Linked DNA regions of Homo sapiens. The protein of the gene in region 3 purifies or fractionates together with the protein of the main gene of each other region. This does not show direct contact. Each region holds a gene or a part of one and is shown on either strand. Other genes may lie near its edges.

What was found. Proteins that work in one complex are often made in the same cells at the same time.
Region 1: the proteins of ARL8B (region 3) and TMEM192 purify together in Homo sapiens (affinity purification with mass spectrometry; 2 studies listed by BioGRID and IntAct, with this or other methods). This does not show direct contact.
Region 2: the proteins of ARL8B (region 3) and RAB2A fractionate together in Homo sapiens (co-fractionation; 2 studies listed by BioGRID). This does not show direct contact.

What each region holds. Positions count from the first base shown.
Region 1 is NC_000004.12:165,095,849-165,102,877, reverse strand, and holds part of TMEM192 (transmembrane protein 192), read left to right. Parts: intron 1-1,985; coding exon 1,986-2,250; intron 2,251-7,029.
Region 2 is NC_000008.11:60,582,970-60,589,998, forward strand, and holds part of RAB2A (ras-related protein Rab-2A), read left to right. Parts: intron 1-1,238; coding exon 1,239-1,321; intron 1,322-1,753; coding exon 1,754-1,846; intron 1,847-7,029.
Region 3 is NC_000003.12:5,167,263-5,174,291, forward strand, and holds part of ARL8B (ADP-ribosylation factor-like protein 8B), read left to right. Parts: intron 1-3,240; coding exon 3,241-3,321; intron 3,322-4,887; coding exon 4,888-4,961; intron 4,962-5,384; coding exon 5,385-5,478; intron 5,479-6,754; coding exon 6,755-6,822; intron 6,823-7,029. UniProt on the Homo sapiens protein: Small GTPase which cycles between active GTP-bound and inactive GDP-bound states.

The sequences.
Region 1 (7,029 bases), on a different chromosome or scaffold from region 3:
AGTTGTGCTGTATCTATCAACATTTAAAATGTAGGGCACATGTTCTTAGGACATCCTGAGTGCTGTGTCATGGGCAAAAAAAAAAAAAAAAAAGTACGTACACTTTTACTTATATCTTCAAATAATTCATTGTGGATATATTTGCACACATGTAAAGATATTGTTGATAATAGCCATGTTGTCTGTCATATCAAGAGACTACAAACTACCTGGCTACTTGGCATCCAGAAGACACTGTGTGTCCCATTCATATAAGGAAATGCTATGCAACTGTTAAGAATGGGGTGGATAGGTATACAGTATATTAACATAGAATAGCCTTCATGATTACATTGTCGAGTGAAAAAAAATCAAGTTTTCAACCTTGTGTACAGAATGTTCCTATCTGCAGTTTTTAAAAGGGAGTTGAGAGGGCTGTTGTGGACCTGTTTTCCTGTATATAATAGAATATTTCTAGAAGCATTCACAGACCTAGTTGCCTCTGAAATGAGGACTGAGGGTCTTGGTGGAAGAGACACTAATATAATTTACTGTTTACTTTTGAATACTACTTGATTTTTTAACCATGTGCTTGTATTACTTTTTCAGTTACAAAAAAGATGCAGAAAAGTCTACATATGTTGACACAGGAATTTATCAATTTACTTATACCTAGGGAATAATGTTTAGCAGACAAATCAAGTTGCAGTGGAATAATATGTACAATTTTTGTATGATGACAAAATTACAACTATCTGGAGTTTATAAAAACACATGTGCAAAAGGTCTTATCGCAGGCCTCACTGGTGGTGACTCCACTGCCAGTCTGTTTAATCAGTTCCTCCCTTTCGACGATTGCAGTTGGAAGCACTAGGGGTTATAGTTGTTCTCTGCTGCAATGTGAAAAATCAAGAGGGCTCATTCTCACCACTCCTTGAGTATTTACGAGGACTGTGAATGGAGTTGATTGACTTGCTCAGCCTCTGCTCAGCCTCCTACTGATAGGTTTGCCTGTCTGCAGGGACCGTATCCCTCAGCACATTTCCTGGCTTCCCCTGCAGCTGGGATTCCTCTCCAGTGAAGTGCACTGTGGGAGACTTGAGTTCAGAACTGAATCACTGGGGAGAGAGGTGGTATCCCCTTTCCTTGAGGGAACTAGTAGCTGTGGTATGGCTCCACCATGGCTTCCTGATCCCCAGATCCCAGCTGAAGCGCTTTCTTCTTGGTACCACCATGTGCAGGGGTGGCCTTGTGGTTTCCAGATGGTGACCTCTTTTTCTTCTTTCCTTTTACTTTTTGTGTAACATACTCTGTACCAGCCTGGGTGCCATAGCAAGAACCTGTCTCTATAAAAACTTCTTAAAATTGGCCAGGCATGGTGGCACAGGCCTGTAGTTCCAGCTACTCCAGAGACTGAGGTAGGAGGATCGCTTGAGCCCAGGAGGTTGAGGCTGCAGTGAGCAGAGATGGCACCACTGCACTCCAGCCTGGGCAACAGGGCAAGACCGTATCTCACACAGAAAACAAAAATACATTTAAACAAAACAAAACGAAAATACATTTAAAAACTCATTTATAAAAATAGGACAGGGGAAGCTGTAGGTATAAGAATGTATGCTGGGAAGCCGGGTGCGGTGGCTCACACCTGTAATTCCAGCACTTTGGGAGGCTGAGGTGGGTGGATCATGAGGTCAGGAGATCGATATCATCCTGGCTAACATGGTGAAACCCCGTCTCTACTAAAAATGCAAAAAGTTAGCCAGGCGTGGTGGCGGGTGCCTGTAGTCCCAGCTACTCGGGAGGCTGAGGCAGGAGAATGGCGTGAACCCGGGAGGTGGAGCTTGCAGTAAGCCGAGATTGCGCCACTGCACTCCAGCCTGGGCGACAGAGTGAGACTCTGTCTCAGAAAAAAAAAAAAAAAAAAAAAGAATGTATGCTGGGATGGTAGTTATTGCTTCCTAATTACAAATATTGAATATTAATCTTTCTGCTCTCCTTTCCCCCAGCTCGTGTTTGTTGTTTTAGCATTTTTAACAGGTGTGCTTTGTTCTTATCCTAATCCAAATGAGGACAAGTGCCCAGGAAATTACACAAACCCATTGAAAGTTCAGACGGTTATAATCCTTGGGAAAGTTATTTTGTGGATTCTCCATTTACTCCTTGAATGCTACATCCAGTATCACCACAGCAAAATCAGAAACCGAGGCTATAACTTGATCTACCGATCAACAAGGCATCTCAAGAGACTTGCGTTGATGATACAGTCCTCTGGTATGTCCAATTTTCTCTCAGCTACTTGGGTGCTTGAGGGACAAAAATGACAGCAGAAAGAATATATGAAGTTTGATTTTAGAATCAAATATATTCTCTCATTTTTGTAAGGTTGATGTGTGTTCTGACCACTAAAATTTGGATCACCTTAATGTCTTAAAGCTTTTCTTGGCCGGGTGCGGTGGCTCACGCCTATAATCCCAGCACTTTGGAATGCTGAGGTGGGCAGATCACGAGGTCAGGAGATCGAGACCATCCTGGCCAACATGGTGAAACCCCGTCTCTACTAAAAATACAAAAATTAGCTGGGCGTGGTGGTGCATGCCTGTAATCCCAGCTACTCAGGAGGCTGAGGCAGGAGAATTGCTTGAACCAGGGAGTCAGAGGTTGCAGTGAGCTGAGACTGTGCCACTGCACTCCAGCCTGGCAACACAGCGAGACTCCATCTCAAAAAAAAAAAAAAAAGAACTTTTATTATGAAATATATAGCCTTAATTTTCATTTGAAATCTGTTATTTGTTATGAACATGGTGTCCTCATAGCATGTGTGAAGTGTGGAATTATACCCTCTTTTGTTACCAGGTGGTTTACTCATCTCATAAAGATAGAAATGCTGTTGCTATTTGACATTTCTGAGGATAGGGAGAGGGAATTTTTAAATTTTATTTTATTTTCTCTGAGGCAGGGCCTTGCTCTGTCACCCAAGACTGAAAGGCAGTGGGGCCTTCATGGCTCACTGTAGCCTGGAATTCCTGGGCTTAAGCAATCCTCCCACCTCAGCCTCCTGAGTAGCTGAGACTACAGGTGCATGCCACCACACCCGGCTAATTTTTTTAAACATTTTATGTAGAAGCAGGTTCTCACCATGTTGCCCAGGTTGGTCACTGGAACTCCTGGCCTCAAACAACCCTCCTGCCTCAGGCTCCCAAAGCTCTAGGATTACAGGTGTGAGCCAGTCCTGGTGGGAACTTTTTAAAAATGAAGCTCAGTGCTTTTCTTGCAGTAGGAGACAGTAATGGTTAGTTCCTAGGATAGAGGACTGTTAGGCAGTGAGATGCATTATATCAAACAGAAAACTTGGAAAACACACAGGTCCTAATTTATGAAGGCAAGATCAGAAGGTCCACATGAGACTTAGAATGCATGAGTACTTGCTTTTCTTTATCGTTGCAGACATTTTAAAGATTTAATGGAATTAAATTGAACTTCTTTAGGTAAATTTGGCATTAAGTTATAGTAAATGGCCGGGCACAGTAGCTCATGCCTGTAATCCCAGCACTTTGGGAGGCTGAGGTGGGCAGATCCCTTGAGGTCAGGAGTTTGAGACCAGCCTGGGCAACATGGAGAAACCCCTCTCTACTAAAAACACAAAAATTAGCCAAGTGTGGTGGTGTGCCCCTGTGGTCCCAGCTACTCTGGAAGCTGAGGTGGGAGAATTGCTTGAGCCGAGATCATGCCACTGCACTCCAGACTCCAGCCTGGGTGACAGAGTGAGACCCCATCTCAAAAAAAAAAAAAAAAAAAAGAAAGAAAAAAAGTTGTAGTAAATAACTTAGTTTCTACCTTTTAAAAAGATCCTGTTTTTCAATTTGAGTCCAGAATAAATCTTAAAAATTTTTGAATCCAGGCCAGGCTCGGTGGCTCATGCCTGTAATCCCAGCACTTTGGGAGGCCGAAGCGGAAGGATCACCTGACGTCAGGAGTTCGAGACCAGCCTGGCCAACATGGTGAAACCTCATCTCTACTAAAAATACAAACGAAAATTAGCCGGGTGTGGTGGCACGCGCCTGTAGTCCCAGCTACTTGGGAGGCTGAGGCAGGAGAATCGCTTGAACCTGGGAGGCAGAGGTTACAGTGAGCCGAAGTCATGCCGCTGCACTCCAGCCTGGGCAACAAGAGCGGAACACTGCCTCAAAAGAAAAAAAAACTTGAATCCATATGTAGTCTTCCTACTTGGAGGAGGCAGCGAGAAAAAGAAAAAGAAGGAAAAAGAAAAAAAAATTTTTTTTGAATCCAGGCTGGGCATGGTGGCTCATGCCTATAATCACAGAGCTTTGGGAGGCCAAGGTAGGAGGATTGCTTGAGGCCAGGAGTTCGAGACCAGCCTGGGCAACATAGTGAGTTCCCCCATCTCTACCAAAAATGAGAAATTTAGTGCTGTAACAAATGAGCACCAAGTTAAGTTTTAAAAAAAAAAAGAAATTCCTGGGCGTGGTGGCTCACGCCTATAATCCCAGCACTTTGGGAGGCCGAGGCGGGTAGATTCCCTGAGGTCAGGAGTTCGAGACCAGCCTGGCCAACATGGTGAAACCCTGTCTCTACTAAAAATACAAAAATTAGCTGAACGTGGTGGCGGGCAACTGTAATCCCAGCTACTCGGGAGGCTGAGGCAGGAGAATTGCTTGAATCCGGGAGGCAGAGGTTGCAGTGAGCTGCAATCATACCATTGCACTGCAGCCTGGGTGACAAGAGCGAAACTCTGTCTAAAAAAAAAATTAAGGCCGGGCACGGTGGCTCATGCCTGTAATGCTAGCATCTCAGCACTTTGGTAGGCTGAGGCGGGAGGATCACTTGAGGTCAGGAGTTTGAGACCAGCCTGGTCAACATGATGAAACCCCATCTCTACTAAAAATACAAAAATTAGCTGGGTGTGATGGCAGGTGGCTGTAATTCCAGCTACTCAGGAGGCTGAGAATCGCTTGAACCCGGGAGATCAAGATTGCAGTAAGCTGAGATCGTGCCACTCCAACCTGGGTGACAGAGTGAGACTCGATCTCTAAATAAATAAATAAATCTCTATTTCAAAATAAATAAATAAATAAGTAAAATAAAATAAAATAAATAAATTAGTCATGTGTGGTAGCCTGTGCCTGTAGTCCTAGCTACTTGGGAGGCTGAGGTGGGAGGATCCACTTGAGCCCAGGAGTTTGAGGCTGCAGTGAGCTATGATTATGCACCACACTCCAGCCTAGGTGAAAGAGTGACACCCCCCTCTATAAAAAAAGAAAAAAAAATTGGATCAAATTAGAGATTTTTTTCTCCAAAAAAAAAAAAAAAAGGCTCCACAGAATTTAACTTTTATTTTTCTTCTGTTCTGTTAGTGCATTTTCTTTTTTCTTTTTTTTTTTTTTTTTGAGATGGAGTCTCGCTCTGTCACCCAGGCTGGAGTGCAGTGGCGCTATCTCGGCTCACTGCAAGCTCCGCCTCCCGGGTTCAGGCCATTCTCCTGCCTCAGCCTCCCGAGTAGCTGGGACTGCATTCGCCCGCCACCACGCCTGGCTAATTTTTTGTATTTTTAGTAGAGACGGGGTTTCACCGTGTTAGCCAGGATGGTCTCGATCTCCTGACCTTGTGATCCGCCGGCCTCGGCCTCCCAAAGTGCTGGGATTACAGGCATGAGCCACCGCGCCCGGCCTGTTAGTGCATTTTCTTAAAGGGCATGCTGCAAGTTCATCTACTCAGTGAAATTCTCAGTGGAAGCTGAAGGGCTATGCTATATCAGCGTGAAGCAGTTTATAGAGTTGGGTGATCCTGACTGCTCTTGAAGGGGAAGCATTTATTGCTCCCTGCCTCTTGTGAGAATGAGCTTGAGAATGTTCAACTGTTGATGTGCAGCTCTCTCTTTTGGCCAGAAGATGTCAGGGTAACACAAAGATTAAAAAAAAAGAAAAAACTTAATTTTAAACTACAAAAGATCTTATATGATCTGTGACCAAAATAATACTCAGTTTCTCAAGTGATGGTCTGGAAATAGTATTTTGGAAGCTCACAAGGAGATTATTTGATCTTTACCTTTCCAAAATCTGCCTTTCAAATTTTTGTTAAACATGTGAGCCGTAATCATAATCTATTTCTGAACACTTGGACCTTTAGAATCACAGGTGATATCACGTTTATGTGGCTCATGTGAAAACCCAGAAAATCAAACGGAATGGAGCAGGTACTTACCTTATTTCTATTTTTTAAAATATTTTTTCTTATTTGCAAAAAAAAAAAAAGATAAATCTATGGAGATGTAGGATGTAGGACTTACAGATAACAGTACTGATAATATTAACTTCAGCCTGATATATTTTGTTATTTTCCAGAGAAGAAAAAAAATTATTTACCTTTGGGTGGAGATGGGAGAAAGGGCTTTGCTTTCCTACCAAGTGAAAATATTTACCTGATTAATCTGTTCTCCTTCCTTAGATCCAAATACATATATATATATATAATTTTTTTTTTGAGAGTCTTGCTCTGTTGTCCAGGCTGGAGTGCAGTGGTATGAACTCAGCTAACTGCAACCTCTGCCTCCCAGGTTCAACTGATTCTCCTGCCTCAGCCTCTCCAGGCTAGACTACAGGCACGCACCACCACACACAGCTAATTTTTATATTTTTAGTAGAGACGAGGCTTCACCATGTTGGCCAGGCTGGTCTCGAACTCCTAACCTCAGGTGATCCGCTCCCCTTGGCCTCCCATAGTGCTGGCATTACAGGCATGAGCCACTGCGCCCGGCCTAATAATATTTGAGTTCAAAATGTATTTGGGCCAGGTGCAGTGGCTCACGCCTGTAACACCAGCACTTTGGGAGGTCGAGGCAGGCAGATCACCTGATGTCAGGAGTCCAAGACAGGCCTGGCCAACATGGTGAAACCCTGTCTGTACTAAAAATACAAAAAAAAAAAAAAAAAATTAGCTGGGCATGACTGGGGTGGTGGTGGGCGCCTATAATCCCAGCTACTCAGGAGGCTGAGGCAGGAGAATTGCTTGAACCTGGGAGGTGGAGGTTGCAGT
Region 2 (7,029 bases), on a different chromosome or scaffold from region 3:
ACAGGCTTTCTCTGAATGCCTGCTATATGCCGGACCCAGTGCCTAGCACACACTTAGTCACATGCAGGGGGTGGGGGATGGGGGAGGGAGGGAGTATAGAGGAAGGGTCAACAAGAGCAAGGTATTGTAGAGTGTTGAGTGTTAAACAGGGTAGAATATGAGCCGTCCATGCGCATTCTGAGGGTGGGAAGGGCTAAATATTTACATTGCAAGATCAGAACTCAGAATGTGTAAACATCAATATTTTTCAAGTTAGGGGATTTTGAATATAAAAATCGTTAAAATTGGCTTTACGTTTACTTAATTAAAATGCTTATGTTTTTGCAAAAGTAGGAAAAGAAGGGATTAAAAATGAAAAATAACTTCTTATAAGAGCTGTCTCGGTTTTAAACTCAGACAGAACAGTCACATTCCTCCCCAGCAATTCTTAAAAAAACAGAAATTAGTACCATGAGTAAAAGAGAAATTACCTAGCTTTGCATAATCTCTTGTGTCTGTTTCACAAGTGGATATAAAGATGACTTTTACATCCTGTTGCCTTTTGACAAGCATTATATATCAAATACAGAGAAAATTGATTAAGTGTGGAGAAAAAAACTTATATAAATTAAATTCAGAACCATTTTGCTTTTCATAATAAAATGATTGCTCAAAGAATTCCATTTGATGACTGTTGAAAGCTCACTGCAGTTTATGATATAACTGATAAAATCTGCATCCTTGGCCTTCCAACAACCTTTACACCAGCAGATGGTGGGCGTAAAGATGTCATTCATCATTTATTTACAATGGGTTTTATTTATTCTAGTGTCAACAGCTGCCCCAGGGAGTGGGTTATTGAATTCAAATGTGAGGCTCTGGGTTATTTGCTTCCTTTCAAATTTGTCTTCAGAGCTTAGTTGCTAGGAGTCCATTCTGTCCTTTAATAATGATTCGTGTATTGTGAAGCCATTCAGTAAATTGGGTTGTCAGGGATTGCCAAAAAGGGTTTAGAGGTCTTGCGGGCTGGGGAGGTTGCAGGAGCGACTACATGTGCACTACATGTGCGTCTCGTTGACTTGAGCAATCTTGAGCAATAGCGGTGTTTTGTAACTTTTTCCTAAGACTGGTGAAGTTAAGTTTTCTTGTCTCTCTTTATGCACTCCTTCCCTACCTGCTCTTATTCTGTATATGAATAATATGAAAATGTAGAGGACATTGTATTAAAGGAAACTCTCCAACCTTTTTTTTCGTTACAGGCAGGGCAAGAATCCTTTCGTTCCATCACAAGGTCGTATTACAGAGGTGCAGCAGGAGCTTTACTAGTTTACGATATTACACGGTGAGAACTTGAAAACTTTGCAATTCAGTAGTTGATACAGAGAATTTTTCTAAATAGATGTGGTTAACAGTAATGAAAGAATAGCTTAGCCTTTCTGCCCCGGCTACTCACCTTTAAAACTGCATCTTGAGTCCAATTTAAATTTACTACAGAAACCTGCAACTGAATTGTTTTTCTTATTTGAATTAGCACCTTCAAATTGAAATCGGCCATATTATTTATTCATTGGAATTTTCTAAAGTGTGATTACATTTAATTTATAAACTGAAATACAATCAGTGAACTCTAAACCCAGATATGGTGCTTAAAACTACTTCTCGTTACATAAGTGGATATGGCTAAAAGTGGTTCTCTTTAAAAATATGTATATTGTTCGTTGTATACTGAGGGAAATGCTTTGAACATAGTAATTAAATTATTATTTATGTTTAGGAGAGATACATTCAACCACTTGACAACCTGGTTAGAAGATGCCCGCCAGCATTCCAATTCCAACATGGTCATTATGCTTATTGGAAATAAAAGGTAAAAAGGCTAATTTAGAGCTTACATTGCATTAGTGATGAAGACTGTACTGTTTATTTGACTACTTTCCTTAACATTTGTTCAAATGTGAGTTACCAGCCTCTTAAATTATAAAATTTCGGAAATTCTAAGGTGTTTCTTTTGATTTTTAAAATGATGTTAATAAGCTTTGTTGGAAATTATTACTGTTATTATTAGAAATAGTTTTTGTGTAAAGAAATACTTTAAAAAGTAATCTGAAGGAGTTTTATCAGATTACTGATGTAAAGTAAAGCCTACTGATTTATTTGGGGAGTTGGATTGAACATCTTTGTGCTGTCAATTTAAAATGCTATTATATGGGAAAACCTTCTTGCTTGACCAGTTTCCATAAACTTCTAAGAGTGTGGGAAAGTTTTCACTAATTTTTGTAGAAACTTACAGTGGTAAGAAAATATTAGTATTTTCAAAATGCTAGGCACCATTCTTTTTGTTTTGTTTTGTTTTGTTTTGTTTTGTTTTGTTTTGTTTTGTTTGAGACAGGGACTCACTCTGTTACCCAGGCTAGAGTGCAGTGGTGTGATCATAGCTCACTGCAGCTTGGCCTCCCGGGCTCAAGGGAATCCTCCTGCCTCAGCCTCCAAAGTGGCTGAGACTGTAGGCATGCACAACCACAGCTAGTTTATCTTTTTATTTCTTATAAAGAAAGGGTCTCACTTTGTTGCCCAGGCTGGTCTCAGGCTCCTAACCTCAAGTGATTCTCCCACCTGGGCCTCCAAAAGTACTGGGATTATAGGCATAAGCCACCACACCCGGCCCATTCATTCTTTAGGGTTATATTAATAAAATACTCTGAAGAGATGCTGTTTTTAGATAGGTAAAATCATGACTTATATGATAATGAAGACATCTCAAAACTTTTATCTCATTAATTAACAAGATAAGGAAACTGGTAAGATATTTCAGCCAGTTCAAAAGGGAACTCAAATTACTATACATTGATAATCAAATAAAGAAACTGAAATGAATTTACAAGATGGATGCAAAACTGAACAGTATTCACAGGGTATTAATTGTATTCCACAGGACACAGTCTGCATTTCCATGGACAGGAATTATTTGCGTTTATTCCCACAAGTTAACTTCTCTCTCTGCAGTCTTTGAAAATGTGTGAGATGCAGTTAAAATAGTACTATCAAGAAAATTTTTAAATGAACAGCCTAGGGCCAGGTACAGTGGCTCACACCTGTGATCCCAACACTTTGGGAGGCCCAGGTGGAGGATTGCTTGATCCCAGGAGTTCAAGATCAGCCCGGGCAACACAGGGAGACTCCATCTCTACAACAAATTTTAAAATTTAGCTAGACATGATGGTGCATTCCTGTGATTCCAGCTACTCAGGAGGCTGAGGTGGGAGAATCACTTGAGCCCAGTTGAGGCTGCAGTGAACTGTGTTCATGCCACTGTACTCCAGCCTGAGCAACAAAGCAAGACCTTGTCTCAAAAAAAAAAAGAAAATAGCCTAATTTTTTTGCCTTAAGAAACTAGAATAAGAGCAAATCAAAGTTAAGGAAAGCCTCCTGCCCGTTAAAAAAAAAAGAGAGAGAGAAAACCAATGAAACCAAAAGCTAATTCTTCAGAAGATAAAATAAAATAGATACTGATCAGGAAAAAGACAAACATTAGCAATATCAGGAAAGAAAGGTTGACATCACTATAGATAAAAAAAAGAGAGAGAATATTGTAAACAGACTAAATAAATGAAGAGATATAACCATGTTCATGGATTGTAAAACTAAATATAAGATGTCTTCTCAAATTTATCTAAAAATTCATTGAAGGCCAGGTACAATGGCTCACATCTGTAATCCCAGCACTTTGGGAGGCCAAGGCAGGAGCATCACATGAGGCAAGGAGTTCAAGACCAGCCTGAGAATGTAGCAAGACCCTATCTCTACAAAAAATAAAATAATAATTAAAAAAAACTAGCTAGGCATGCTGGCACACGCCTTTAGCTCTACTTACTCAGGAAGCAGAGGTGAGAGGATCACTTGAATCCAGGAGCTCAAGGTTGCAGTGAGCTATGATTGTGCCACCTGCACTCCAGCCTGGGCAAAAGAGCAAGACTCTGTCTCCAAGAAAAAAAAAAAAAAAAAAAGATTTATTGTAACCCTAATCAAACTATCAAACATTGGCAGACTTTTTTGGGAGGGTAGATATTGACAAGCTGACTTTAAAGTTTATGTGCAAAGGCCACGGAATAGCCAAATCAACTTTGACAAAGAGGCACAATATTGGAGAGAATTTACTATTCTACAAATTTTAAGATTTATTATACTATAGTCAATTTACTATTGTTTGGCATAAGCAGACATAGATCAGTAGAGCCGAATAAGAAGTTCCAGAAGTAGATTCATATATATATGATATATTAATTTTTTGACAGAGATGCTAATTTAGTTGAAGAAGGGGTAATCTTTTTCATCAAATGGTGCTGAAACAGTTAATAGTCATATGTAAAAATATGAACCTCAACTGTTACATTATACCATTTACAAAAATTAACTGGAAGTGGATCATAGACCTAAGTGTGAGAGCTAAAACTACTTAAAATTTCTAAAAGAAAACAAATTGTAGTGACCCTGTTTTGGCAAACATTTCTTAAATGGGACAGAGAAAAGCATGAACTTATAGTTCAGAAAAAAAATCAATAAATTGTTCTTTAACTGAATTTAAAACTTTTGTTCTTCAAAAGACGGTTACACTATTATACAACATCGTGACATGGTTAATGATGATATAGTGCATTCTGGAAAAATGCTGAAAGAGTGGATGTTAAGTGTTCTCACCACAAAAAACGATAACTGTGAGATAATGCAAATTAGCTAGATTAACCATTCCACAGTGTATATATACTTTAAAACAATATGTTGTACATGATAAATATATGCAATTTTACCTATCAATTTAAATAAATAAATTTGAAGAAAAACGGTTACAAAAATGAAAAGACAAGCTACAGACTAGCAGAAAATATTTGTGAAAAATGTATCTGACAAAGGATTTATATCTAGAATATATGAAGAATGCTTATAATTCATTAATAAGAAGACATCCACTTTTTAAAAATGATCTAAAGATTTGAACCAGCAATTACTACAGAAGATATACTACTGATGGGAACGTAAAATGATACAATCACTTTGGAAAACAATTTGGTAGTTTCTTTAGAAATTAAAAGGCCGAGGCGGGAGGATTGCTTCAGCCTAGGAGTTTGAGACCAGCCTGGGCAATGTAGGGAGACTTCTTCTATACAAAAATAAGAAATTTTTTAAAAAAGTAGCTGAACATGGTGGTACATACTTGTAGTCCCAGCTACTCCAGAGGCTGAGGTGGTAGGATCACTTAAGCCTGAGAGGTCAAGGCTGCAGTGAGCCATGATCATGCCACTGTATTCCAGCCTAGGCCACAGAGCAAGACCCTGTCTCAAAAAAAAGAAATAAAGCACACATCTATATTTCCTAGCCACTTTACTCCCAGATGTTTACCCAACATAAATATGTCTTCATGTGTCCACAGAATTATGTACAAATATTCATACCAGCTTTATTTCTAATAGCCCCAAACTGGAAACAACCCAAATATCAATTAACAGATGAATCGAAAAATAGTGATACAGCATTACAACAGACTACAACTCAGCTATAAAGAGGAATGAACTATTGATACATGCAGCAAAATGGATGATTCTCAAAATAATTACAGAGTGAAAAAACTCAGACCAAAAATACCATGTGATTACATTTATATAAAAATCCTAGTAAATGTGTACTAATCTGTAGTGGCAGAAAGCAGATCATCAGCTGCCTAGGGTGCAGGGGCAAGAAGGGATGGATTACAATGGAGTATGAGGAAACTTTTGGGAGACTGATGGCTTCACGGGCTTACATATCTTAAAACTCAACAAATTTTGCATTTAAGTACAACTTCTTTTATGTCTGTTACACCTCAAAAAAGCTATAATGTAAAACATCGTTATACTGTATAGATTTTAGAGTGTTGTTTTAATAGAAATTGAGATTTGCTATTAAGAGAAAATATTACCTAAGTGATATTTACATTATAAAAAGCTAAACATTGTTTACTTCTTTGTGTAGAGAAGAAACTATTATCATATTCTCTGAAGGCCTTTCTTGGGTATTCTTTTCCACATTTAAATCATCTCACTAAACCTTTTTAAGGTTATAAAGCTATTGGAGGGAAGTTTTAGTCTTTCTATGATGGAAATAGTTATTCTGTCATTCAAGGTATGAAATAATAAGAGGAGAATACTTGGAAAATAAAGAGAATTTTTATCCTTTTATTTTACCAATTTTTTCCTTGTGGCTGAAACATGATGAGTGACAGCTTACTGGTGGCTTAAATTTGGTCACCGACCACTAGGAGCTGATAGTTCAAATGTGAGAAGAAATAAACAAAGCATAGTATGTAAACGAGATGTTTCTGATGATCGTAGGTGGGTGACCTTTAAAATCAGGAGTATAACGAACAAGAAAGAACAGAGAGAAATAAATGAGATGATTATTTTTAGATGAATTGAACTGTGGATAGACATCAAAACAGGGAATAAGCAATTTTTGAATTAGACGCATTAAGCAGTAGGGAGCCAGTGAAGGGCAGTGACCTAGTCAGAGCAACAGATGACACAAATTTTTCTTACTATGGCATTTTATTAATAAATTGGTTATATAAGAAATAGGAAGCAGAGATTTAAAAAATGAAAGTTTTTTAATAGTGTAAGGGTTGTAATGCAAACCCTAAACAAAAAGGGGCCATAAATTAAAAGAAAGATACTTAAGTAACCTAAGCAACTTAAGTGGGATTCAGAGGGAGTGAACTAAGACAACAATATGATGTAATGCCTGGAAAACTGAGGTATTTTTAAAACTTTGCACTAAGTATATCGTCAAGTACTATGGCTTTTGAGTTTTTTGATTTGACCTATAGTAAGAAATGTATTTTACATCATGACCTAGTAAATAAATTGTGTATACACCTACACATATAACAAAATATTCGTAAATTATACCTTTATACGTAAGTTCCATGAAACAGTAGATGGAACTTATGTATATAGGTGATAGACTCTGATATTTTATATTGTTTCTTTTTTTTTTCCCTTCCCAAGATGGAGTCTCACTCTG
Region 3 (7,029 bases):
CATGGCATTTAAGAAGGCAGGCATGAAAGCATACAGTAGTCCCTCTTATCCATGGTTTTGCTTTCCAGTTTCAGTTACCTATGATCAACCTCTGAAATAATAATGACTCTAAAGCAGAAGAGTACTGTGCCTAATTTATAAATTAAGCTTTATCATAGGTATGTATGTATTGGGAAAAACATAGTGTACATAGGGTTAGGTTCTATCTGTGATGTCAGGCATCCACTGGGGTTCTTGGAACGTATCCCCCAAGGATAAGGAGGGACTACTTACTTTTATTTTTCTACTCTTTCCCCCCCAAGTCAGATTAACTCATAATTATCCAGATCTTAAGAACAATGTGACTTTAGGCAAGTGACTTAAGCTGACTTTGCCTTGTTTTTCTCATCTGAGAAATGAAGATAATGCTACTCATTTCATTGGGTTGTTATAAGGATTAAACTATGCTGATGAATGTTAAGTGCTTAGTATTACGTGTTTGTTAAATTTGTTAAAATAAGTAGAATGATATACTACTAAGTAGTATTTTCTAAACATCTGTTTCCCAAACCTGTAGTCTTAATTAAGCAGCTTCTTGACAGCTCAGACATAAATTCTCAGGTATCTAGTGCCCAGTTGCCAACTGAGTGGTTATAGTTGTTCAACACAAGCTTTGAAAAGTGATGATTAAGATTGGACACTAGGAAAGAAGTAGAAAATACTTCCAGGTCCATAAAGTAATTATTGCACAAAATTCATGCATCAAAGTTAAGCACTTTATTGGCAGAAGAGTTCCAGCATTTTCCTCCTTCATGGCCTATGTTTTTTTTGAGACATGCTCTCACTCTATTGTCTAGGCTGGAGTACAGTGGCACAATCTTGTCTTAAAGTCATATCGTTCTTAAGATCTCAACCTCCACCTCCCAGGCTCAAGCAATCCTCCCACCTCAGCCTCCCTAGTAGCTGGGACTACAGGTGCATATAACCATGCCTGGCTAATTTTTGTATTTGTAGAGAGAAGGTTTTGCCGTGTCACCCAGGCTAGTCTTGAACTCCTGGGCCGCAGCAACCTGCCTGTCTCAGCCTCCCAAAGTGCTGGAATTACAAGCTTGAGCCACTATGCCTGGCCCTAATAACTCTTAGTTTGTTCAACAAATATTTATTGAATATCTTGCTCTACTCAAGAATTTTGGAGTAAAAACTCAAGGACTTGATTAGCTAATTTTCGGTTTTTGCATGTTAGCAGTAGCAGCTGAGTTACAGGAAAGTTGTTAGGGTTGGCCAAGGTAAAGAAAAGAGATAAATGAACCCCTGAGAAAGCTCGGGGGTACCCCAGTATACTGCAGCCCCCTACATTATTTTATTATGAAGTGCTGTAGTTGATGTTCATAATCATAAAACTTTACCTCCAATAGGGAGGGCCCTTGAGTGTTATCTAATTTAGTTTTCTTGTTTTGCAATAGATAAACTGACCCAGAAACATTGAGAACACATTAAATCATGTTCTATAGGTTGTTTGTGGGAAGTTAGCCAAGTGTATATTGCCTTTTAGAAAGCTTTCCATGCAAGCTAGTTGTAAAGTTTGGTACCTAAAAATTTTAGCTACTATTTTTCCTGCCTCTTCATTATGTAAAACACTTAATGATATGAAATAAATGAGCATTATCTCACGTAGATCTCTCCTCAGAGATTAAAGCCTATCACAATAAATATAATTACAATGAAAATATTTAAGAAAAATATAATCACGATTTAGCCATGTGACCTTGGGACTCTACTACCTGTTCTATGAAATGATAATGATAATTGTCCCTCCCTGTATGATGACTAGTTTTTTAAAAATTTTGGTAAAATACATAAAACACAAAGTATCATCTTAGTCATTTTTAAGTGTGCAATTCAGTAGTGTTAAGTACATTCACATTGTGTAACCATCACCACTGTCCACTTCTAGAAATTTGTTATCTTTTCAAACTGAAACTCCATACCCATTAAGCAAATTAATATCTTCTGTCTTTATGAATTTGACTATTTTAGGTACCTCATAAAGTGAAATACAGTGTTTGTGTGTGTGTGTGTGTGTGTGTGTGTGTGTGTGTGTGAGTGTGTGAGACTTCTGGCTCATTTCATTTAGCAAAATGTCTTCATTTCTTTTGAGTGTATATTCAGAAGTTGAATTGCTGGATCATATGATAATTCTATTTTTAGGTTTTTCAGGAACTGCTATACCATTTTTCATAGCAGCTATACCATTTTGCCTTCCTGCCAGCAGTATACAAGAGTTCCTATTTCTCTGCATTCTTTCCAGTGCTTTCTGTTTTTTTTCTTTTCCTCTTAATAGTAGCCATCCTACTGGATGTTAGGTGGTATCTCTTTGTGGGTTTGATTTGCATTTCCCTAATGATTAGTGAGTCGAACGTCTTTTCATGAGTTCATTGGCCATTTATCTTTTATCATGGCTTACTTTTGATATAACTAGTTTAGATAGAATGACTAGATTTTCACATATAATCACATATGTGAAAGTCCTGAGAATTATAATGTCTTATATAAGTGAAAGTAGTGACTATGGCTGTGTTAACATTTTTTCTGAAGTTAATAAAACTCCACTGAACAGTTAAAAGAGGCACAATTCGAGTTCTGTATAGGAAGTTATTTGTACAGTTGGAATTCGTTGTGCTCAAGATTTAAGACAATTTTGGAATACATGTGTATGTGGCTAGCATAAGGCCATAGCAGACAATACTCATGACATTGAGATAAGTAACCAAAAAGAGAACAAAATTGATTACATAAAAGGAAAAACTTCTGTATGACAAAATATTTTATAAGCCTTATTAAAAGACAGACTTGGAAATGCTGTTTAGCAGTGAATTTTAATAGTTACTGTCAGAATAATTTAAATGCTGAAAGTTTTATTTCTGATCTCATCTACTTTGTGGAAATGTACATCTAGGTGAACACATTTAAAAATTTTCGTATGTATTTGTCATATAAAATTCTTTTAGCATAAGGAAATATGTAAAAAATTACATTAGTTTCAAAAATATCTTTTTTAGATGGAAGAATATATCTTTGTTGGGACAAAATAATGCATCTCTTCAAGAATTATGGCCATAAGGAACATGTTCTTAAAGTAGATTGTTACCAATGGTAAAAAAATATTTACTAAAATGGTTACAAATGCAATGTTGATATTAGAAGTTTATGCAGTGTCATTATAAGTGAGTAGCCTAACTTCAAATGTTTTATTTTGTTCAGTCAGGTCAATTCAGTGAAGATATGATACCCACAGTGGGCTTCAACATGAGGAAGGTAACTAAAGGTAACGTCACAATAAAGGTAAGTTATTTCTTGCCGTACGCAATTTAAATTGTTAGCACAGACCCCTAGAAATTTTTCTGTTAAATTTCTGTGTTTTTACTGAAAATTTGCAGTTTTTCAGTAATGAATGTGCATGTTTCAAAAGAATAGGTTTTTTTGTTGTTGTTTTTTTGTTTTTTTTTTGGAAACAGAGTTTTGCTCTTTCACCCAGGCTGGAGTGCAGTGTCGCGATCTCCACTCACTGCAACCTCTACCTCCCGGTTCAAGTGATTCTCCTGCCTCAGCCTCCAAAATAGCTAAGATGACAGGCTTGTGCCACCACACCCAGCTAATTTTTTGTACTTTTAGTAGAGACAGGGTTTCACCATGTTGGTTAGGCTCGTCTCAACTCCTAACCTCAAATGATCTGCCTGCTACGGCCTCCCCAAAGTGCTGGGATTCCAGGCGTGAGCCACCACGCCTGGCCAAGAATAGATTTTTAATCTATTTTGTTTTTCAAAAATCAAATCTATGGCCTGAGCCTTAATGTCCATTTTGCCCAATTATTGTGGTTTACAGAAGCTGTTCACTTTCTCTGTGGCTCATCTAATGAAGTTCCAGATTTAGTCAAGTGCAGGTTTCTTTATGCTTGTTACCAGTGCTTTAGTTAAACCGGAAGCCTCTTGAAGATTAATACTGTGACTTGAGACTTTAATGTAGCCCAGTGTCTAGTGTGATGCCCTACGGAGTAGACACAATAATAAAATGATTATGGATGTGGCTTTCATGTGCATAAAATAATTTTATTTTATTTTATTTTTTTGAGATGGAGTTTCACTCTTGTTGCCCAGGCTTGGAGTGCAATGGTGTGATCTCGGCTCACTGCAACCTCCGACTCCCAGGTTCAAGTGGTTCTCCTGCCTCAGCCTCCCGAGTATATTACAGGCACCTGCCACCACACCTGGCTAATTTTTTGTATTTTTAGTAGAGATGAGGTTTCACTGTGTTGGCCAGGCTGGTCTCGAACTCCTGACCCCAAGTGATCCACCCGCCTCGGCCTCCCAAAGTGCTGGGATTATAGGTGTGAGCCACCATGCCTGACCAAAATAATTTTATACAAGAAAAACACCTATGTGGAAATGTTGGCTACTTATTTACAGGATAATTTCAAAAGGTTAGGCATTAATGTAGAACAAATCAGACGATTAAGACTTAATAGATTCTGAATTGTTGTTTTCTGTCTTGGCATTCAAATCTGGATGGTGCATGGTCCTGTAGCTTTTAAATTGTTATCATAAAGACATATGTTTTCAATAATAGAAGTATATTAGTTAACAGGCAAACTATTGCACATAAACCAAATCTTTGCTTAAGCAAAATTTTAGATGTATTGTAAATGTATTAAATACGGACTTCAAGTTTAGAAGTGGCCCCAAGAATTCCCATATTAAGAGCTTGTTTGAGGTCAAGTCTTTCAGGAGCACTTTGCCTCTAACATTGTAGAAATAAATATATCTTCCCGATCTTTCTTTTTTTCTGTTACTTCCTCTTGCAATCATTTAATTAAAATATCTTTATTAAGAATTGCCTTGTTTTGATTTAAAGATCTGGGACATAGGAGGACAACCCCGATTTCGAAGCATGTGGGAGCGGTATTGCAGAGGAGTCAATGCTATTGTGTAAGTGGTTTTTTTTTGTTTGTTTGCTTTTAAATCAATGTAGGCATCAAAGAAGAAAGTTTATTTTAGTATTTCCAGAGGCTCAATTTTTATCTCAGGCAGTGAAAATCTTTCTTAGCTAATATCCTAGTGTAATTCCCAACATGGGATTTAAAAAAAATTAATCATAGAATAAGATCTTTATGTTTTTTGTTTATGGAGCTAAGAGCTAAGGGGTGTACATGTTTTACTATCATGTATTAGTCTCTAAAAACAGTCTAGTTAAAAAGTATTAAAGGGTGCTGAGCCTTTTCTTATGACATAGTTTATTTTGGTTAATAATTTCAATAATGTAAATCTTACAAAAATTAAAAATCAATAATACTAGTTGTCATCATCAAGGCATACAGAGAAGGTATGTTGAGATCACTTCATTTTTTTAAGTTACATGATAGATGCTGCAGATCGTGAAAAGATAGAAGCTTCCCGAAATGAGCTACATAATCTTCTAGATAAACCACAGTTACAAGGAATTCCAGTAAGTATGGAATACTTGTTATTTTACATTGTAATTATATAATGATATTAATTATGGTAATTATGCAGTGATATTAATTATGTTTGAAATCAGTAACATGTCTTCATTTTTAAAATCTGGAAAACTTGCTTACCATGTATCTGCCATATACTGGGCATTGTGCTAAATATGAATCTCATAACCACGTATCTACTAAACTACTATGCAGCAGGAGCAGTGCGTAGGCCCAGGGATATAGTGATGAATGGAAATCAGTAGAAACATACTCCTTGCCATCATGGACCTTATGGTTTAGTGGGAAAGGTAGATACTCTGAAAACACTTGAATAATGCAGCTTTAAGTGCTAGGAAGAAAGGTGCAAGGGGATATGAGAGTTGTAATTTAGAGGGGAGATGTGATCTAGTTTGAGGGAAGAAGGAGGGATTCACGAGGAAGTAATGGTTGAGCTGAGATCCAAGGGATACATACAAATGTGAGGTATATGACAGTTGGAGGGGAAGAGAGTTCCAGGCAAAGGCCTTTGGGTGGGAGGAAGTGGGAAACTGAGAAGAGGCCAGTCTCTAGAATACATTTAGGAATTTGCATTTGGATTAGGAATGCTCAACCAGTAAGTATATAATGCAAATCCAAAAAATTTCCAAAATTCGAAACACTTCTGGTCCCAGGTATTTTGGATAAGGGATAGTAAACCTGTACTAAGAATAGCAGAATGCCGCCGGGCGCGGTGGCTCATGCCTGTAATCCCAGCACTTTGGGAGGCCGAGATGGGCGGATCACCAGGTCAGGAGATCGAGACCATCCTGGCTAACGCGGTGAAACCCCGTCTCTACTACAAAAAATCAGCTGGGCGTGGTGGTGGGCGCCTGTAGTCCCAGCTACGGCAGGAGAATGGCGTGAACCCGGGAGGCAGAGCTTGCAGTGAGCCCAGTGGCTGCTGCACTCCAGCCTGGGTGACAGAGCGAGACTCTGTCTCAAACAAACAAACAAACAAACAAACAAACAAAAAGAATAGCAGAATGTGTATCATAGACTCAGACTATTTTACATAGCAGTTGGCAGCCACATACTGAATTAAGAGCACCTGCATGGTGGGAGTTGAGTGAATACAAGTGTGAGCAATGAAATGAATGAGACAAGCCACCAGTTACACAAATAGGCCTTAACATTGTGGAATGTGTTAACATCTTAACTTTGTGTCTTCACATATCAAGATGATAAACTTCTGTGACTTTTTCTTGCATAAACGTGTGCTCTTAATATCTTTTCTTTTTAAAGGTGCTAGTGCTTGGAAACAAGAGAGATCTTCCTAATGCCTTGGATGAGAAACAGCTAATTGAAAAAATGTATGTCTTGAATATGCTATTTTAATAATTTGCTTCTAAATTACCATATTTTGCCCACTTGTTATGTTATTCCTAATGATCATAGCCATTTTTTTTAGGTAGATAAAAGTTGGCCTATCAGAGAAGTGAATCCTAACATTTTAGGATTGCTACGATGATTTCTTCAGTATAGTAATAAAACTAATGAGTAAAATTGAACAAAGTGAT